Linked DNA regions of Homo sapiens: region 1 is linked to region 2. The links come from fine-mapping of genetic effects on gene expression. A gene starts in region 2. The other region holds a variant in brackets. All regions are shown on one strand. Distances are from middle to middle. Region 1 overlaps SYNPO2 (synaptopodin 2). Region 2 holds the start of SYNPO2 (synaptopodin 2).

Region 1 (5,229 bases), 110 kb after region 2:
GGTTTGGCGACTTAATGAGGTAATAAAAAGCAAGACACTGACACAGGTAGGGGATGTGAGATGTGAGGCATTGTTTCCTTGTGAAGGAAAAAGACCACTTGTAACCCACTGAGATAACCTGTCCTTCATTTTCCTGGGTCTGAGAGGATCATTCTCCTTTCACTCTTTCTTTGCTTTTAATGTGAAAGACCTTGCTAATAATAAATGAGAGCCCGCCTCCCTTTGATATGTCCAAGCTGAGGAAGACTTCCTGATGACTGTCATGTAAAACAGCAGAAGACACCCACAGACACACAGAGAGAAACAGACACACACGAGTAATACAACCCCAGGGATCACCACCCAGGATTAATAAAATAGCATGAGCTATAGTTGCTCACATTACACAGGCTTCCTTCTCGGCAATGTGGCATGGTGCTGAAATGTTGTTTAAAAATTTGTGCTGCCACCTTCATACCATGGCCATATTTTGAAGCCCATGACCTCATCGCTATCTGAGTTGCCAGGGCTGGATTCCAGGAGAAAGGGGAAGGGAGGTGGACAGGAGAGAGAAGAAGCAAAGATTAACAAGTTGAAATAACAAAAACTTTTAATTCCACTTCTTAGAATTCAATTATGTCATTTGCAGAGAGGGTCCATGTCTTCCTGCTGTTCTTTCTTTCTTTCTTTTCTTTTTTTCTCTCTCGCAACATCTGCTGAGACATAAGTCTAGAAAATCTGTAACCACCTGAAACCATTCACTGGGGCACAAATCTATTAGGCCTAGAGTTTCATATGAGTGCAGTGAAGTGAAGTTATATTTGAGCTCTCCATCATAGAATTTCTATTCCACATGGCTGTTCTTTCTACCCTCACACTTTCCCCTCAAGAGGTAAAAAGTCTCTCCATTTTCATACCCACTGTTCGTTTTCTCCTTGGCTTTGTGCCCCATGGGGGGTGCCATTAACATGTGTCTAATGTGGCCATGCCCCCTTGAACCTGTGCAGTGTCCTAGCCCTATGGCCCTTCCATACATAGTTAAAAGAAGAATGGATCAATTGACAGAAAAAAAATGGAAGAGAGAAAGAAAAATTGCTTCTCCACCTCAAAATCTTAAATCAAACATAGCCTTGTACACGAGACACAGATACATTTATATATATTTATATTTAGATACTGACTTCTAGACTAAGGACAGATACTGAAATAAAAACAGCACTTTAATATTGTCCTTAAGTAGATACTCATTGTTAACTGAAGAAATAGGTAAGTAGCTATTTAACCCTTCATGTCCATAGCACATAGATTATTTAATATTCTACAGCAGAACTTTTAGAAAGTCAAGGCAACTTTTATTTGTCCAGAGTTTAAGTTTAAATTCACAGGTCACTCAAATCCAGTATACCGGGAAGCCAAAATATCAAAAATGCAAGGATTTATTGAAAAGCCATGACGCTTTTTAAAATTTAGTTCTTATTCTTTATCAAAGTTACATATACCTAGTTTAAAGAGTCAAATAGTTCTAGAATACGTTTTATGAAAAACCATCAATTTTAGATTTCCCAAAAGCAAAACATATTCTTTTTACCTTTGTCTAGTTTTCTTCTTATTTCTAAAATATACATCTGTGTTTACCTTTGTCTAGTTTTCTTCTTATTTCTAAAATATACATCTGTGTTTACCTTTGTCTAGTTTTCTTATTTCTAAAATATACATCTGTGTGATTTCTTGATTTTTCTCAGTTGTAAAAATTATTCATTGTTATGTCACAACGGAAGATGAAGATAAATAGTTCTGTTACCCTTCTCCAGTCCCTACTTCAAGCTCATATGATTACCTAGTGCCCCCCATCCTCCCAATATAATTATATTTTGATTGAATCACTATTCAGTGCTTAGATTATTAAGCTTAGCCAGGTAGTATGTTAGGAATACTTTTTCCTTTCCTGCATAAATTATTTTCTCCTGATAATTGACAACTGTCTTTCTTTTTAAGATTTTAGTTTTCTAAGTATTTGTCATTAGTTCATCCCCAAACTCACTCCATCTAACTGTCCTCCTGGTATTTTAAAATATATCAGGAGTGCTATCAATGTCATTTTTTTTCTTCTGAGATGGAGTCTTGCTCTGTCACCCAGGCTGGAGTGCAACGGCGTGATCTCAGCTCACTGCAACCTCTGCCTCCCCAGTTCAAGCAATTCTCCTGCCTCAGCCTCCCAAGTAGTTGGGACTACAGGTGCTTACCACCACGCCTGGCTAATTTTTGTATTGTTAGTAGAGATGGGGTTTCACCATGTTGGCCAGGCTGGTCTCGATCTCCTGACCTTGTGATCCACCGGCCTCGGCCTCCCAAAGTGCTGTGAGCCACTGTGCTGGGCCAATGTCATTGGTTTTGTAGCCATCTTTCCTGGAGTCTTCTACCCTCCTCTAATTTAAGTTGGTGACTCTCTGCCAGGTGCACAGCTATCTTCCTGGAGTCTCTTCTTAATCATCCTGGGGATTTCTCTTTTCTCTCTCAAGTTGGATTCCCTATTTCTTTGGTTTTTCTTCCTCTTTTTTGTGGTTCCCTTCCTCCATTTGCTTCCTAAGAACAAGTGATGAGAGCTGAATTTTTTAAGACTGGGTATATTTGATACCATCTTTATTCTACCCTCCCACCTAATTGATAATTTATCTGGGTATAGCATTCTAGGCTATTGATTTGAGTATATTTTCCTCTATTGTATAGGCCCTTTATATCCAGCAATGCTTGCCTTCAATTATAAGAAATTTTCTTGAATTATTTGATGACTTATTCGTTTTGTTTTCTGTTTTCTCATTCTGGAATTTCTGTTATTTAGCTGTTGAACCATTTGTATGCATCCTCTCTAATTTTCTTAGCTTTTTCCTTTTATTTTTATCTTTTTGTCTTGCTGTATTAGTCCACTGCTGTATTAGTCACACTGCTATAAAGAAATACCCAAGACTGGGTAATTTATGAAGGAAAGAGATTTAAAGGACTCACAGTTCCTTATGGCTGGGGAGGCCTCAGGAAACTTACAATCATGATGGAAGGCAAAGGGGAAGCAAGCACTTACTTCACAGGGTGGCAGGAGAGAGAAGTGCTGTGAAGGAGGAACTGCCAAACACATAAAACCATCAGATCTCATGAGAACTCACTATCATGAGAACAGCATGGGGGAAACCACCCCCATGAT[C/A]CAATCACCTCCCTCCCTTGACACGTGGGGATTACAATTTGAGATGAGATTTGGGTGGGAACACAGAGCCAAACCATATCACTGCTATTCAAACTTGTTAGGTTTCAGGAGACTCTAGAAAATTTTCTCAACATTGTCTTCCAAATTCTCTACTCAGCTATTCATTTCTGCTAAGAGAGTTTTAATTGCCAAAAGTCCTTCTCATTCTCTTTTGTATCATCCTGTTTCTGTTTCATGGTTTGATATCATTCTGGAGACATTAGTAATAACATTTTTTGACATTTTCCCCTCCCAGTATAGTCTCTATGTTTGCATTCTGCCTTTTTAGTATCTTTTATAGTAGAGGCTTTCCTTTAGATTAGAACTGATGTCCTTGGCTCTCTGCTTACTCTAGGGGAGTCAGGCTGGGCTGTTTCTTGGCAAAGTCCTAATATCACTATTTTAATTGACTGGCTAATCAGAATCTTCCATTCTCCTCCTAGAAAGGTATAAATTCCAGCTGCCAGAGTTCCGGGAGCCCAGATACGACATGGCTTTAAGTGGGAATTTCAGGATCCGGTAGTTAATCGTTCATTTCACCCCTTATTTTCCACCCTCAGCTGTGCCTGGTGTCCTGTAGGGTAAATAAACGATATTTACATGGCTGTGGGAAACAGGAAATGGCATTGAGAGGGTCTACTGTGTTTTTAGACTTTCAACAACATTCCTGTTTTCGGCCCTACATTCACCTTTACTGTTCCACAAATTCCTAACTCTTCAAGGAATTCTGCAGAGCAAATTGTATTGTTTGTTTGGCTTTCTCTAACTTAGGGTTCACTATTCCCAAGTCTGTCCATTTGTGGAAATTGTTCAAAATTACCTTTTTTTAAAAAAAAGTATACTTTAAGTTTTAGGGTACATGTGCACAATGTGCAGGTTTGTTACATATGTATACATGTGCCATGTTGGTGTGCTGCACCCATTAACTCGTCATTTAGCATTAGGTATATCTCCTAATGCTATCCCTACCCCCTACCCCCACCCCACAACAGTCCCCGGTGTGTGATGTTCCCCTTCCTGTGTCCATGTGTTCTCATTGTTCAATTCCCACCTATGAGTGAGAACATGCGGTGTTTGGTTTTTTGTCCTTGTGATATTTTGCTGAGAATGGTGGTTTCCAGCTTCATCCATGTCCCTACAAACGACATAAACTCATCATTTTTTATGGCTGCATAGTATTCCATGGGGTATATGTGCCACATTTTCTTAATCCAGTCTATCATTGTTGGACATTTGGGTTGGTTCCAAGTCTTTGCTATTGTGAATAGTGCCGCAATAAACATACATGTGCATGTGTCTTTATAGCAGCATGATTTATAATCCTTTGGGTATATACCCAGTAATGGGATGGCTGGGTCAGATGGTATTTCTAGTTCTAGATCCCTGAGGAATCGCCACACTGACTTCCACAATGATTGAACTAGTTTACAGTCCCACCAACAGTGTAAAAGTGTTCCTATTTCTCCACATCCTCTCCAGCACCTGTTGTTTCCTGACTTTTTAATGATCACCATTCTAACTGGTGTGAGATGGTATCTCATTGTGGTTTTGATTTGCATTTCTCTGATGGCCAGTGATGATGAGCATTTTTTCATGTGTTTTTTGGCTGCATAAATGTCTTCTTTTGAGAAATGTCTGTTCATATCCTTCGCCCACTTGTTGATGGGGTTGTTTGTTTTTTTCTTGTAAATTTGTTTGAGTTCATTGTAGATTCTGGATATTAGCCCTTTGTCAGATGAGTAGATTGCGAAAATTTTCTCCCATTGTGTAGGTTGCCTCTTCACTCTGTTGGTAGTTTCTTTTGCTGTGCAGAAGCTCTTTAGTTTAATTAGATCCCATTTGTCAATTTTGGCTTTTGTTGCCATTGCTTTTGGCGTTTTAGACATGAAGTCCTTTCCCATGCCTATGTCCTGAATGGTATTGCCTAGGTTTTCTTCTAGGGTTTTTATGGTTTTAGGTCTAACATTATAGTCTTTAATCCATCTTGAATTAATTTTTGTTTAAGGTGTAAGGAA
Region 2 (5,229 bases):
AAAGCACTGTTAATTATCAGTAAAAGAGAAACACTAATACCTATCTAGCATGGTTGCTTTGAAAATAAATACAACATTATATTTCAAGTTCCTGCACAGAATAAATCTTTGATAAGAGTGGCTACAGAGGCAAGAAGAAAGCCTAGAGCTTGCTGGGCCCAAGAAGCCTAAGGGAGAAATGATTTAAGGAGGACACCATCACTAATTTGAAGCTAGACTTGAGTGGATTGAGGAGCAGAAGGGACATGAAAAAGTAAAAAGAACAAATATGAAAGTGTTTTTTTTCTTTGTTCTCAGAGCTCATTTTTTAAAAATTTTTACTTTAAGTTCTGGGATACATGTGCAGAACATGCAGGTTTGTTACATAGGTATACATGTGCCATGGTTGTTTGCTGCACCTATCAACCCGTCATCTAGGTTTTAAGCCCCGCATGCGTTATGTGTCGTAATGCTCTCCCTCCCTTTGTACCCCACCCTCCGACAGGCCTCAGTGTGTGATGTTTCCCTCCCTGTGTCTATGTGTTCTCATTGTTCAACTCCCACTTATGAGTGAGAACATGTGGTGTTTGGTTTACTGTTCCTGTGCTAGTTTGCTGAGAATGATGGCTTCCAGCTTCATCCATGTCCCCTGCAAAGGACATTAACACATTCTTTTTTTATGGCTGCATAGTATTCCATGGTGTATATGTGCCATATTTTCTTTATCCAGTCTATCACTGATGGACATTTGGGTTGGTTCCAAGTCTTTGCTATTGTAATTAGTGTCAAAGCTCATATTTTATGATGTCTCTTGTAACTATTGTTTAAAGGAAAGACTGGGAAAGTCAATTCGTGTTTCTGAAAAGAATCAAACTTGGGATGAGTATCTGGCCCTCATGACCTTCAAAGGGTCTCTTCCAGTGCCACAATCTCTGATTTCATTGTCCTCACTCCAGTGATGAGTCACAAATAAAATCACTTGATGCCTTTGGCTTCTGGGGAGCATGGGCTGTGTAAAATGTTCATTGTACCACAGGTCCTTGAATAATGCCATTTTATTCAACATTGTTTCATGACAACATTGATGAGAAAAAAAAATGTATTTCCAGCTGGGGCCACTGTTTGTATGGAGTTTGAAAGTTCTCCCCATGTCTGTATAGGTTTTCTCCAGGTCCTCTGGTTTCCTGCCACATCCCAAAGCTGTGCTCATGAGATGAACTGGCATGTCTAAATGGTCCCCATCTGAGTGAGTGTGTGTGTGTGTGTGTGTGTGTGTGTGTGTGTGTGCACCCTCTGATGGGATGGTCAGGGCTGTCCAGGGCTGATTCCTGCCTTGCGCCCTAAGCTGCAGGGAGAGGCTCAAGCCACTGGAGATCCTGAATGGGAATAAGTGGGTTGGAGGAGGAATGAATGTATGGATGCAAATTATTTTCAAAAAAAATTCATAAAATATATGTTAATCACACAAATGCACAGCAATAGATGATGCTGTATGAAATTTCTCAGTGAGCCTGCTATATTTGTGGTGGTTTTGAACTGCATTGTGACAGGAGGTACTCCTTATAATTTTCCTTTTGCAAACATTTATTCCTTGATTGAATCCACCACCACTACAGCTGCCCTCACTCACTGATTCACCAAAAATTGGGTCCATGATTATCTTGTTTTTATTAATCTTTCTTAAATGCATGTGTAGCTGACATTTATTTCCATGTTTAATATTAGAAGTGTTTTAATCTTATTTAAAAGTTTGGTGATGTCTTTGTGACCAGAAATAGACTGTAGTCACTTAACCTTGTTTTTATCAATTAGTCGATGGTAAAATTGGTTTTAAAGTCACAGTTTCCATGAACCTATCTGTGACGTTTTAAGTGAGGACTTACTGTATATAGTGCTTCTTAGTGCTGAAACAGGCAGCGTGTCTGGAAATTTTGTTTGGTACCACAAGTAACACAAACAAACTTTCCCAGGCTCTTCCTTATTTAGTATGTTTTTATGTGGATGAATGTTATGGAAAACAAAAGTATTATAGGAAAATTAAAATGTCCTTTTTGTACATTTTTGGCAGATTGTATTCAGATTTAAAACATTTAAATATTTGGAATATACAAAATCTGCTTTTATATTGGACCACCCAGATTCATGACATGGGATGACAAACTATAAAAATAAGAAACCTGTAGGTGACATTGTACATTTTATGCAGTTGACTAACTGTTGGGTTTGGGTTTAAGAAGATCAGCAGGTAGAAAGAAAACAAAACACGTTAAAATTTAACATACCCAAAACTATGCAATAGATGTAATTATAAGAATGTAGTTTCCAGGAGAAAAATTCATATTCATTTTCTCTCTTTCTCTCTCCCTTTCTGTCTCTTCTCTTCCCCTTTCTCTAAATATATGGTTCAGAAAGGTACTTTTCAGAGCTGGAGGTTTATTAACAAAAAGTTTGTGCTTTCTTTTGTTTCCTCTTATAGGAATAATTCAGCAGAATGCAGACAGAAAAGTAGTAATTTAACTCATTTTAACTCTTTTTTGTCTATTCCATTCATAAATGTGGCAAGTCTCAAAACATTTATTTGAGAGAATCTAATCCTCTAGTAGTTGAATTCCCAACGCTCCTATTTTAGGACGTCATTCATGGCGTGGAGATTAAACCTTCATGTGTCCTTTACTATTTACAGAATTATTAAATGTAAGTTTTTCAATCATACTTATACCATTAACTGCTTGGATTTAATCTGTTAGTGCAAGATAACTTTGGCTCTCCCTTCCGTCCTCCTTTCCCTTATCTCGCCCCACGTGAGGACATTCTCCTGTGTGTGAAGCTGCTTTCCTTTCCTCGAAGGTGGGCCGAGCAAAGGAGAGTGACGCAAGAGTGGGCTGTGTCCTGGATGCTGCGAGCGCCTCTGCCTCCTTGAGAATGAGCCCATTAGCCGCACAAATTCGCAGCAGGCGGCTGGGGCGGCGGCTGGGGCAGCGGCTGCAGCAGCGGCGGACGCTCTGCATTACCCAGTCTTGCGTCCTCGGCAGGCGCCCGAAGCTGAGTGCGCATCCTCTACCGCACCCAAGCTTCGTCTGTCTCGTCAAGCTCTTCATGCTGCCCAACTAAAAGGAAAACATGGGCACAGGGGATTTTATCTGCATTTCCATGACTGGAGGGGCGCCCTGGGGGTTCAGATTGCAAGGTGGCAAGGAGCAGAAGCAGCCCTTACAAGTTGCAAAGGTAGGACCTGAACGAAGTGTCACGGCTCTGTGCTAGGAAGGAAGGAATGAAAGCAACCTGCTGATGGTGTTTTCAGGTTCTGATGCAGAAGTCTAAGTATTATTTGATTTTGCTGCGGATATTAAGATTTTTCTAGGAAGTGAGTTATTTTCTAAGAAACTTTGGAGAGTAATGGGCCACATCCTATGTAATTAACTTGCAATCGATGAGGGGTGGGTGGGAAGAATGCCATATTTATCAGCTGAGGAAAAGGCCTAGTTAACCATGTTCTTCTGACAACAAGCAAGACACTGGGGAGCGTTTCTTCCAGGCAATTTTAGAATGTTCAGTTGAGTTATTGTTTGATGTCACTTCACTTGGCTCTGGCAGAGGAGAAACGCTCAGTTCAGCATAACGACTTTGCTTGGCTATTTTGGGGACTCATATAGAGTGTTGGTAGTGACATTTATTATGCAGCATTCATGAAAAGGCCAATGTTGGGCAATAATTTTAAAAGTATGATGAAGTGTCATAAAATCTATTTAAAAGAATACCCTTTTAAGGATTTGACAAATAAATGCAAAAATCCAATAAATGCTGTATTCCTTCTTATGTACTCTTTTGGTCAAGATCTCAAAAATAAACTTAGAAGATAATCTAAATATATTATGAGTAACTAAGAGGTAACTTTGTAACACATTAATAACTATTTAAAATGCTTTAAGTTTTTATTGCCATTAGATTGCCTGCATTACTGGTTAGCCCAAGGGGATCTGGTATTCTCTAATTGGCATTCAGCTAAAATAAAACTTAAAATGCACAAAACTAAGCAAACTTTTACCTAACCTTATCATCAAATTGCAAATTATAGTATTGTATTGAAGAACATGCAAGAGCATGGGATTAATTTCCTATTTTATGCTTATATTAAAAATGGGTACAGATCTTTATGAAATACATGGGCCATTGCCTTTGTAGTTATTGTTTGTTTCCCTCTGGCTTTTACTCTTTTTTTTTTGTAGTTATTGTTTCCCTCTGCCTTTTACGTTTTTTTTTTTTTAGTGTCCTTTGCGAAGAAAGAAGTTTCTTTGAAACTCCTTTTTGCTTCCAGGCATCATATGTAAATCCTTTCGTAATGTGATGGTGGAATCCTGCCACCTAGTGAAAATTGCAAACATCAAGAATGAACCATAAAACAGTAGATGAAAAGCAGAGTTTTTATTACTGGAAAGTTCCTCCGAGGTCTGCAGTTCAACCCATGAATTTTAGATGAGGAAAGAGCCCAGAGATGTTAAGTAACTTGCCTTAAGTTTTCAGCTTGGAACTGGCAGAGTGATTAAAGGCTCAGAAAGGTGGTTTTGTTGGGTTCCTTTAGGAGTCAATAGCAGGCAACCTCAGATAAAATATGAATGCCCAATTTAGCATATGTAGAATTCATGACACTGAAGCAGATTTGTCCTGAGTCTAGAATAGCAGTTGGCTGGCTCTAGGTATGAGATTTGGGTTCTAATTCCAGCTCTGATCTAACTTGCAGCCTGGCCTTAGGAAAATCTCTCACCCTTCCTGTCTCATCGGTTTCTCTCTCTCTCTCTCTCTCTCTCTCTCTCTCTCTCTGTGTGTGTGTGTGTGTGTGTGTAGGGAGAGAGAGACAAATATTTTAACTTAGGTGGTAAAGAAGTAAGAAAGAAATTGGACTGTGCAGTCTACGAAGCTCTGTCTTGCCCAAGTATTCTACGATCCTGATAGTGTACAGTTTTAGAATCGCTTGCCTACTAATTGAAATATGGGGACAGAGTGGCTGAGTGCTGTTGTTCTCTGGTGGCTCTTTGGCAGCCAGGCCTCAAGAATAGAGTGGGTAGTGGGTTTCTTCTGAGTTCTGCATGTGACGATTTCAATGTGGGACCTCTTTGCGGCGATTCACTGAAGAGCTGAAGCAGATTGCTAGGAAAGGGTGCTGTGGAGATTCTCTGCTAATGGCATCTCTATTTTCAGGATTCAGTAAGGTTGTTAGGCTATGTCAGAATCCAGTCCTACACTCCCCCTAAA

Evidence for each region. PIP is the estimated chance that this variant, and not a neighbour inherited with it, causes the effect. A credible set is the group of variants that fine-mapping cannot tell apart.
Region 1: its variant is the best candidate, but not a certain one, in a credible set for the expression of SYNPO2 in monocytes after LPS (Quach 2016, PIP 0.54).

What each region holds. Positions count from the first base shown.
Region 1 is chr4:119,000,190-119,005,418 of GRCh38, forward strand. The region is part of intron 1 of SYNPO2 (synaptopodin 2); the gene reads left to right. Among named protein-coding and RNA genes, the nearest start is that of SYNPO2-AS1, 18 kb to the left of the region's middle. The variant C/A (reference allele first, on the strand shown) is at 3,176.
Region 2 is chr4:118,885,938-118,891,166 of GRCh38, forward strand. It overlaps SYNPO2 (synaptopodin 2), which reads left to right and starts at 2,917. Exons shown (of 5, transcript NM_133477.3): 1 at 2,917-3,204. The coding sequence starts at 3,100.